2 separate regions of the Homo sapiens genome follow, and region 2 is linked to region 1. Evidence: fine-mapped QTL for protein levels in blood plasma. A gene starts in region 1. The other region holds a variant in brackets. All regions are shown on one strand. Distances are between the middles of the regions.

Evidence for each region. PIP is the posterior inclusion probability: the model's chance that the variant is causal. Protein levels are from antibody-based Olink assays in UK Biobank. Linkage for the fine-mapping came from a reference panel and not from the study's own genotypes, which makes the PIPs less certain.
Region 2: its variant is fine-mapped to the plasma level of the IGFBP3 protein (UK Biobank, PIP above 0.99).

The regions. Positions count from the first base shown.
Region 1 is chr7:45,918,674-45,924,045 of GRCh38, reverse strand. IGFBP3 (insulin like growth factor binding protein 3) reads left to right here and starts at 2,774. Exons shown (of 5, transcript NM_000598.5): 1 at 2,774-3,308. The coding sequence starts at 2,906. RefSeq lists enhancers at 1,810-2,390, 2,391-2,971.
Region 2 is chr7:45,965,320-45,970,691 of GRCh38, reverse strand. The region is part of intron 1 of LOC102723446 (a long non-coding RNA gene); the gene reads right to left. Among named protein-coding and RNA genes, the nearest start is that of IGFBP3, 47 kb to the right of the region's middle. The variant C/T (reference allele first, on the strand shown) is at 2,181.

The DNA.
Region 1 (5,372 bases):
CCAGCTGGGGGCTGAGCAGAAGAAAAGCAAAGGAGCCAGTATCACGCAGCGACAAGGTGCCCTTTAGCAGCAGGAGTGGGCTCAAAGAAATGAGTGGTTTAGGTCACCTGGTGAAAATAACGAGGCTGACCAAAGGAAACACTAATTATAATCAGGTCAGCTGGACTCCGTTAGTGAAAAGAGATCTATGCAGCCTCCTGACCTCTATTCGGATGGTTATTCGCTACTTTTGCAATGATTAGCAATTGTATGCCAAGCACCTTCACAGGGGGTAAACATCTTTCTCACTAAATACTAGTTTATGTTAAAAACTACAAACACCAGATGAATTGGAAGTTTAACAGAATTAACGAGCATGTCACAAAATTAAGTTTTATCCAGTCCAAATCCTTCCTGCAACAATTATGTTCCGGGAGGGGCAGGGAGCTTGCAGTTATCAAATAAAACTGGCTAAATAACAAAACACAATTCTCCCCGTGTCACTGCCTCAAATTTACTCTGCTGTTGCAAGATGTCATGATAAAGGTGATGGCAATCTATATAAAACATTGTTATTGGAATAGCCTTTGAAAGTTGAAATGTGACTTAGTCTTTACGTGTGTCCCGTGGTCCCTGAGGCCGGGCTGGACGCCTGGAGCTTTGGCGCCCCCTAGCCATTCGGCACTGAACAAGTTTCTCCAACTGCAATGCGAGGGAAAAAAGAAGAGAACCAAGAATAAAACAAATTTTTTAATCCTTTCCAAAAAGACATTGTTTCTGATCTTCCCCTGTCCACTCTCCAGATGATAAAGCTGAATAAAAAGTGCTACACTAACCAGTGGTCAGTCCAGGCTCTGCTGCAACATTGCACTAACCAGAACTGCAGACCTGGGACCTCAAGAATTGCATTTGATGCCGAACCCAGCTCTAATTTCAGAGTCAAGGTCTCTGCGAGTATTTAAGGAACGGATGTAAACCTGGGGGATTCGTTTTGTTTCCTTCAATTTTCCAATGAAATCAGAGATCCTGTTCTTGGGTGTCAACGCAGATACTAGAAGGAGGTGATACAAGAGAAAGGAAACAGCAAGCGACGATTATGGCACGGTTTCCTGTAAACAAGGTTGAGTGTAGCCACAGCCTGAGCACTGTGGGAGAAGAGCTCATAAGAAAATGACGGTGCTGGGCCTTCGTCACCCCGGGGCACTCCATTGTTCTTGTCTTTGGTCTCTTTTTATTTGTAGAGGTCCAATTATTTATTTATTTAGTACAAGAGGGAACGAAATTGATCTTTCCATTCTAAAAGGAGAGTATATATGTATAAAAGGAAGCTGTATAGATATGGGGGAAGAGGTGGACAGGGGGAAAAGGGGAGAGGACGAGAGAGAGAAAGGGAGGGAGAGGGACAAGGAGAGACACTGGGCGAGAGATCGATTAGGAGAGACAGAAATGATGAATGAAGATTAACTTCACCCAAGGCTTCGTGCTGGAGGGGAATGGAGGAGCTCCTGATTTGCTATTACTACTCCAAACTGCAAAGGGCTCCTTCAAGTCACCTATCCACCTCCTAAGGCAAGCGTCCAATTTCAACAGCGTTCAGGAAAGTCTCCTCCCGCGGAGGTCTCACCGCTTCCCACTCCACCCCCACAAACTCTTTGGAAAAGTGCCTTGAAAAATTTAATCCTCAATCCAATCCTGGACCACCAGCGTCCTCTGTTGGTCACCGAAGGGAGGGGGTGCGCAGACAAAACTGAAGAAACTCGAGTGCCAGAGAAGGCCGACAGGAGTTACAGCGACCTCAGCGCGCAATTGCGCCCCCGAACTTTACTGAAAAGTGTTTAGATTGCAGAGATAAGCTAGAATCCCAACGCATCGAGAATACAGTAATACGAAGTCGCCTTCAAAAAATGACAATGAAAATTGCCTATTAAAGGACTATTTGGTTAATTACGTTTCAGCAGTGCCCAGTTTATTGTCTTTATTATTCTTTTGTCATGGGTGTAAACTCCATTTGAAAACATAATCAGGGAGAATACCCAAGACAAGAAGAACAGTTGTCATTTAAAATATTTGAAAAGCCCTGCCTTAAGGACGCATTCGCTTGCCGGTCCACTCTTAATTGGAGACTTGCGGTGTAGCAACACGTGAGAGTCTTCTTGCGTTGAGAAGTAAGCCTGGAAAGGGGCGAAGGCCCCGGGCGCATCTTCAGATGCGTATTTGTGGGCCCCTGGGGATATAAACAGCCCAGCGGGTGTAAATTAAACCCCGCAGTGCCTTGGCTCCCTGAGACCCAAATGTAAGTCAGAAATGTCCCAAGACTTCGCCTGCCAACGGAATTAAATTTTAGAAAGCTCCACGAGGTACACACGAATGCGGAGCGCTGTATGCCAGTTTCCCCGACACCGGCTCGCCGCAGGGAGACCTCACCCCGAGAGCGGAAGGGGTAAGGGCGGCGGGGTCAAGGAGATCGGGGGTGCTGAGTTGGCCAGGAGTGACTGGGGTGACCGGGGGTGCTGAGGTGGCCTGGAGTGCCGGGGTGGCCGGGCACACCTTGGTTCTTGTAGACGACAAGGTGACCCGGGCTCCGGGCGTGCGCACGAGGAGCAGGTGCCCGGGCGAGTCTCGAGCTGCACGCCCCCGAGCTCGGCCCCGGCTGCTCAGGGCGAAGCACGGGCCCCCGCAGCCGTGCCTGCGCCGACCCGCCCCCCTCCCAACCCCCACTCCTGGGCGCGCCGTTCCGGGGCGTGTCCTGGGCCACCCCGGCTTCTATATAGCGGCCGGCGCGCCCGGGCCGCCCAGATGCGAGCACTGCGGCTGGGCGCTGAGGATCAGCCGCTTCCTGCCTGGATTCCACAGCTTCGCGCCGTGTACTGTCGCCCCATCCCTGCGCGCCCAGCCTGCCAAGCAGCGTGCCCCGGTTGCAGGCGTCATGCAGCGGGCGCGACCCACGCTCTGGGCCGCTGCGCTGACTCTGCTGGTGCTGCTCCGCGGGCCGCCGGTGGCGCGGGCTGGCGCGAGCTCGGCGGGCTTGGGTCCCGTGGTGCGCTGCGAGCCGTGCGACGCGCGTGCACTGGCCCAGTGCGCGCCTCCGCCCGCCGTGTGCGCGGAGCTGGTGCGCGAGCCGGGCTGCGGCTGCTGCCTGACGTGCGCACTGAGCGAGGGCCAGCCGTGCGGCATCTACACCGAGCGCTGTGGCTCCGGCCTTCGCTGCCAGCCGTCGCCCGACGAGGCGCGACCGCTGCAGGCGCTGCTGGACGGCCGCGGGCTCTGCGTCAACGCTAGTGCCGTCAGCCGCCTGCGCGCCTACCTGCTGCCAGCGCCGCCAGCTCCAGGTGAGCCGCCCGCGCCAGGTGCGCTGCGTGCAGCACCCGGCGCACTGGCGCCGAAGGGCCTGGGGGTTGCTGGGTGCCGCTGCGGGAGACTCCGCTTTTCTTCTCACTGGAGATAATATGTGGGGAAACTGAAGGCGCTCCGGGAAAGGTGAAGGCGGTCGCCGGAGGGACCCTCCCCAGCCGGCCCTCTACTTGCTCGATTCTCTAAGTGCAGAGTACTTGTAAATTGCAAAGCGCTTTCAGTGAAAATGGGTTAAAGGTTTCCGGAGCTGAGGGGAGCGGTACCGATGTTTAGCTGTTGGAAAGATCCTGGACACAGGAGATTCTCCTCGCCCCGCACGGGGGTGCACACGGACTGCAATCCCAGGGATGCTTGGGGATGGGGGGGATATAGGCGGATTTGGACCAAGGAAGGTGGGCAGGCACGTTGTAGGAAATAGTACCTCTCTTTTAAAATACTGACTTTGCACAGCCTTTTGGTTTGCAAAGCAATGTCTAGTCCCGGTATGTCCAAAAACAAGTAAAGTGGATTCGGGTTTTGATATCTTCTGCGGTTGGAAAACCTGAAGCTGAAAAAGAAGTAACTTCTTAAGGTTACCCAGCGGCCACAACAGAGTGTAGGTTTGAACTCCGCGTGCCACTTTCAGTACCATACCATTCTTACAACTCGGGCCACCCCTGCACCTGCGCCGACCTCAAACAAACTTCCAGGTGCGTGGTGGGTGCGGGCAATGTGGACTAAGTCAATTTCAATGACACGGAAGGGAATTGGAATCAGTCCTAGGGCTGTCTCCCTTCTTAATCTGAAATGGGGGGGGGAATGAGATGTTGTTAAGGGGAGCCCCAGAAGAGGAAAAATGCAAACATTTGGCAGAGTTACCCTCTTGGCTTAGCCACTATCAGTATCAGGCAGACAGCGACTCTGGTAAGGGCATCACATTGTTCCCTTAAAAAAAGGAGCGGGGGTTGTTTAAATGGATTTGGCAGCTGTTCTTTCAAGCATTCTTAGCCAGCCTCACCTAGTTATATGAGAAATAAAGTTCCTGCCTTGCACAGCTGAAGGCTGGGAGAATTCTCCCCATCCTAATTCCCCCAACTCCCCAACGATCACGTTGGACAGATGTCACTGGGCAGGCCCCCATCTAGGGCTAGCAGGATGAACAGTCCCTTTATAATTTATGTAGCTGTAGAGTTCCACGCCCGGGTGAAGTTATTTTCTGGCTCGGCAAGGCTGGCTCTGTTCACCCCTGAGAAATGCTGGATTCATGGAAAGGCAAGATGCCTGAAACATACACTGGCTCTGGTCAGCTGTTAAAGCTGCTGGAGGCATTTGTCTCTCGGGGCAAAGTTATGTCATTTGCCAAGTGTCGTACATTATTGTGCATTTTGGGGTATTCAAAAAGTGATCTTAGAAATACTGATACACATCGTCATTCTTGGGCTTTAGCAATCATCATGATTACCACCTTAGTAGCACTGTAGTATAGGTTGATGTGAGTTATAAGATTATAAAAAGATCTAAGTGACTTCTAGAATCTATTTGACAAAAAAAGGTAAATTTTCGACAGTCAAAAGTCACAATTATCTGTTGCTTAAATAGAACTGTTTTGTCTTCATGCCCTAGTCTGCAGCCCAGGCATTAAGAAGAAACCAAGGAAATTTAAGAAATTACTCAAGGTTCTTAGAAAAGAAGTATAAATACGTTTATTTACATGTTCTTAGAGTATTTACATTCTTAGTATCTCTTTTATCTCAGTATTTCCTTGAAAAAGAAAGCAAGCTAAGATTAAAAGAAATTGAAACCAAATCCTCGCAGGTAGGGACCTCCTCTGTGAGGCTCTGTGCTGGACCCTGGGAATGTGTGCTTCCCAAGGTATGAAACCCCTTGGGGAACTTTACAGCAGGACCTCAGTGAGCTGTTTGGCAGGTGAGGAAACTAAGACCCAGAGAGGAGAGGGACTTTCCTAAGGCCCTGGTGAGTGACCTGCCAGTAGCCACTTCCAGGGGAGAGCAGAGCATCTGCAGCCAAATCATTGCAGCCCCAGGTAGCTTTCTAGAATAGAC
Region 2 (5,372 bases), 47 kb before region 1:
AATGGCATATTCTTAAGCGGCAGACTTGGATTCAGGGCAGGAAATGCCATCTGAGCTTATAAAGCCTTCAGCAGAGGAATATCAGCTCTAGAAACCCCAAACAGAAGCAGGCCTGGCCAAGCTAGAGACCTACAGATGCAACACACCATGGGCTAGAATTTTTAGCACAAAGGGCACTTTTATCACAAAAGGCTAGAAAAACAGTCCTGTCCATTTTTAGAAGTCTATCAAAATATCCTGTCAAAATGAAACAAAATACAATAATAAAAAATTCATAGCAGCAGGGCATGAAGATGAGGGTCTAAGGCAGCCCAGGAGGCCACCCACACACCAGTCTCCGAGTGTCCTTGCCAAATCTCTCTCTGGACATTCCCTCAACCCAACCAATTCTCCCCAAGTCCAAAACACAGCCTCTGCGCATCCTTCCCAACCTCTCCTCTCCCTCACTCTCTAGCTTGCAAACTCCTAGTTACCTTCAAGGCCAGGCCCAAGTGTCACTGGGTCTCGGCAGCCTTCCCAATGCCCCAGGCAGGCACAACCACCCCCTGCCTGGGCAGCCACACCAGTCTCTCTATACTGCTGATCTCCCAGCCCTGACCTGAACGAGTACCACCTTTTGCCATGTGCCCTGCTGAACGTGGGCTCCTCCCAACTAGGGCTCTGTGCCTGGGCTCTGGCCCGGAGCCCCATACACTCCAGACTGGGTAAATGTTGGATAACTATTTGGTGATTGATACAAGGCTTCTGACACAAAGAGAACTGCCCAGAGGTTATTTTCCATTCCCCCAAAAAACTCCAAAAGAACAAGGGTTCCAAACCACTCTTTTCCCTGCTTCCAAAAGACTTTCTGAAAATGAACCCAGCATCTGGAAATTAACTCACTGTGTAACTGTTTCTAAATAGGACAGGTGGACCCCAAAGCGTCTTTCCTCATGGGCTGTCTCAGCTGCCAGGGCAAATGTGTCAATTGCTGTCCTATAAAAGCACGAGGCCACCTCAATTCCAGAAATAAGCAGCAAGGAGCATTGAATATGCAGCGGCCACAGGAAGCGGCAGGACTATACGAATGGAAGCTTCCCACGTAGATTGGTATGTTTCAGCTGATTGGCAGGTAGATGACCAGGTTAAGCACTAAGCGATAAAGCGCACACCCACTGGCTTTTGTGATGTGCATCTCTCTGTCCCTCGGGAGCTTGGATGTTTCTTTTTGGATGGGCCCAAGAGGGTAGCAACAGTTGCTCACTCCAGAAGATGGCAAATACTTGCCCACCCTTTGTCACTGGCCTTAGAGTGACTAGAGGACATAATTAATCATTAAGACACTCCTTCCTGCCAGCATGGGCAAGCCTTCAGAATTCTTCTCCACTCGCACCATGGAAATTCCCTGTCACCCCTGGAATAAATTACTTTCTGTTAAGTGTAGAATCCAGGCAGGTAAGCAAGGTCAGAATGTTAGCCAGGGATTCACTTTGCGATATTTATGGTCCCCTCAGATTTAATGGTATAATCTGATATATATCCAAACAAAATGATATCATCTGATATGAAACAAAATGAGTGCACAGAGGGGTAGAAAACAATGTGTCCTTAATTCAGTTTCTCCAGAACACTTGGCATCCGCCCTGCCGGCCTCGAGGAAGGAGCGCAGCTCCGTGAAGGGTGGGGACATTCCCACAAGAGAGAAAGCAGAATACAAAACAGGACACAGCCTCATCTCTTTGCAACTAAATTTTCAAAATCTTCCATCTAGATGACTCTTAGTTGAGGAGATTCTTCATCTAAAGAGAACTGAATATTCCTCACGTTTGGACGTTAATCAGAAAAAGGCAAATCAGAAGGGAGAGAAATCCTGACTTGGGAAGGTCAGCATGCAACAGATACTACCCCAGATCTCCAACACCAGGCACAAGGATTTATAGCTAATCAGACGCTTAATACAGTCTATTCATCAAGTTTCTGTAGCCATTGGACACTTACCATACCTGGGCAAAGGGGCAAAGGGGGAAAGTTTGAAAGATGAAAGAGATGTGTGTCCACCCACATAGAAAGAGCCGGGACACGTTGTGGAAAGCAAGTTGCTACATCAATAGAGCCCGCCCTTGGCCCATTTAAAGGAAGGGCATGGAAGCAGCACTTATGGAGCCTGCAGGGGCTCACCAGGCAATGGCTCTGTTCACCTC[C/T]GCGGGGAGAGAGGGCTGGGAGGGCAGGTGAGCGAGAACCAGCACATCTGAGTCTGTCTATTCCTGTGTTGTTGGAATAGTTTCTCTGAAAAACAAAAAAGGATCAGAAGAGACAGAGAGAGAGGGAGAATATAAGCTCCTTCCCCTAGGCCCCGCCTGTCAATCCAAGGAGAAGGCCCTACCTGGAGGCCCAGGATTGTGTGCCTTAGAGGATGTGGGCACTGACCAAATGGGTTCTTGTCAGGTGAGCAGCAGGCACCAGGGGTGGGAGAGGCAGGAAAGCCAGGCCCACCCTCAGGAGAAGGGTGGGAAGTCTCCTGAGCCCTGGGGAGCTCCGGCAGGACACCCTTACCTTTGGGTTTGCCATCTTTTCCAGTCTGTTTCCTGCATTAACTGGCAGGATCCCCCTTTGCTGAGATGACACAGGAAAAAGAACAGCCACAGCCCTCACTCTCTGTGGCCTGGACTGTGAGGACCTTGGGGGTGAGGCAACCAGGCCCGCCCAGGGAGTGGGAGTCAGGCTGAGCTCCCCAACCCTTGGGAATGGGCAGGCATCTCACAGGTGCTCAATTCTTCTCTCATACCATTTTTTTATCTGTTAGAGAAAGGCACCAAAAAGAAGCTTGCCTGGGTCAGAAAAGCAAGCGTGCCCCAGCAAATCCCCTCTCCAGCAGCGACGGAGAGCACAGGACAGCAGCAAGGGGCAGACCTGGCCACCTCCAACTTCCACATTTGAGGGTCAGACTCAGGCTGGGGAAGACCACCTGCCCAAGGTCACCTTGTTCAGGTTCAAGTCAGAGCTAAGGGCTCAGTGGGTCCATTCTGAAGGGGAAAGGCTGTGAGTGAGTCTCAGGGAGGCTGGGATTGCCCTGGAGTAAACTTTTGCAGCGTTCTATGCATGATTCTGAGCCAGGGGATCCCTTCTAATCCACCTTTGGGAGGATACAGCACTTCTGTGTTGTGGTTGGAATAGGAAGACCACAGCCCTGGAAGGTTAAGAACTTACTCCTTTTCCCAGTTTATGAATGTATGACCTATTTATGACCTATGAATTTATTAATCTATTCTCTTGGTTCAAGTCTGTTCTCACTGAGAATTTGAGGCAAAGTCTTTGGGGAGACTGGGCCAGACCAGCTATGGAGAGGCAGCAGGAAGGGCTTGAGAGAGCACCCACAGTGGGAGGGAAGCCTGACGGAGTCTTCCATCTTATATATAAAAATATAAGTAAACTTACATTTTATATGACCTTGCCCTAGCTCTTTGAGGTCCCAATTCCCCTGGGTCAGGAAAAGATCATCCCTGAGAAAACAGAGGTCCTCATGGTTGACCATGCTGCAACTTGGAATGAGGCTCTCCTTGCAGGACAGAGGGGGCAGCACATTAGGCCTGGATCCCAAAGTGCAGAGATTCCTTTTGGGAAAGTTTAGGGCCAGATCCAGATGTGTGGTTCTACCAGCAGCCGGTTCTAGGGAGGTAATGTCATCCTCCGTATTCAGCTGTTTCCCCCAAGATTTTATAGAGTACATATTGGTAGCATTAACAAAGTGAGCTGTGGAGTCTACTTTTCGGGAACAGCCATACAATAGTTGGGGCAAGTCAGCGTACAAGACAATGGCCTGCATTCAGGCAAAGGGAGGCCAACCCAGAAAGCCCCAGAAACTCTGAAACATCGCAAAATATAAAGGAGACCCCCAGATCTGCGAAGGGCTGAGGAGATAGCAGCACAAGTCCACACATTCTTGAAGGAGAGGAGGGGATCTGGAAGAACAAAATTGGAAAGGAGCATCGCACACAGACAGCTAGCAACATACAGAGAAATACTCAAACCCTACTAGCCATCAGCAAACTGCAGGTTCACCTGACATCCCATCCAGAGGTTTTATATCCTCAAACCACAACCAAAACATGTAAACCCATTGAGTCAGCCGGGCTGCACCAGGACGGACTCTACTTCAGAGATTTCTGTAACTTCCTGCTTCTGGTAAAGCTGAAAACGCCCTCATGATGGATTTTCTGATGGTTTTAACCCAATGCTAACAACCTTCCTTGGAACAGGCACTGCTGAAAACAGTGCAAAGTCACCGCCACTTCCTGGGATCTTAGGGGGTGTTTGGTTTTTGAGCAAAACTGTTTTCTGAGATTCACACTCAAGACCTCATGGGGATCTTACAAAGGGGACAAAGAACCAAAATGTGTCCTGTCTCTAACTATGCCAGGCAGGCAGAGGAAACAGGCCAGGTTCTAACAGCAAGAGGTTGATAAAAAGGCTCAGTTCTATGAGACAAGACAAGGTGTGTAACATCGGTTTTATAAAATGATGGAATTGATTCACATACTAAGGACTTTTCTGACTGAAAAATTTTGATAGTGTGGATTGCTAAGTATAAAATAACTTTTCCTTGATGTATTTTTTGTTTGTTTGTTTAAACTGGGAAGTTGGATATGAGTATGCACTTGTAGAAACATGTGGTCATGCGCGCCCAGACCTGCATGGTGGGTTCGAACCGCAGGGACAGACCCAGGAGATGGACCTTCTTTTCTAAGGACCGAAGCTGTAATTAAACATTCCTTATGGGCTCTGCAGGCTCCAATGATAAAGGGTGTCCTAGGACTCTCAGGGAGAAAATATCTCAGGACTCCTGAAGGCTTTGCCAGCTCCATAGCTCCAGGGAAAAGACTCTCAAAGGAAGTCGAACTAGATTTTTTTTTCCTTTTTTTTGTTTGAGTCAGGGTCTTTCTCTGTCACGCAGTTCGAGTGCAGTGCAGTGGTGTGATCACAGCTCACTGTAGCTTTGAACTCCTGGACTCAAGGGATCCTCCCCAGTTAGCCTCCCGGAGGAGCTGGAACTACAGGCACATGCCACCACACCCAGCTAAGTTTTTTGGTTTAGATTTTGTGTTTTGTTTTGCATGGAGAGACACAGTCTCACTATGTTGCCCAGGCTGGTCTTGAACTCCTGGCCTCAAGTGATCCTCACACTTCAGCCTCTCAAAATACTAGTATTAGAGGCATAAGCCACTGCACCGAGCCCCAAACCAGGCCTTTAAGCATTAAAGCAAACATATACAGAGTGTGTCTTCACTCTCCTGTGCGCTTTGTGTCCTTGCAAATGGAGAAGGACTTAGATCTGCAGACCACACAGACACTGTGCAGACCCAGAGTCAGGGTGCCGTCTTTGCAAGCTGTCACCC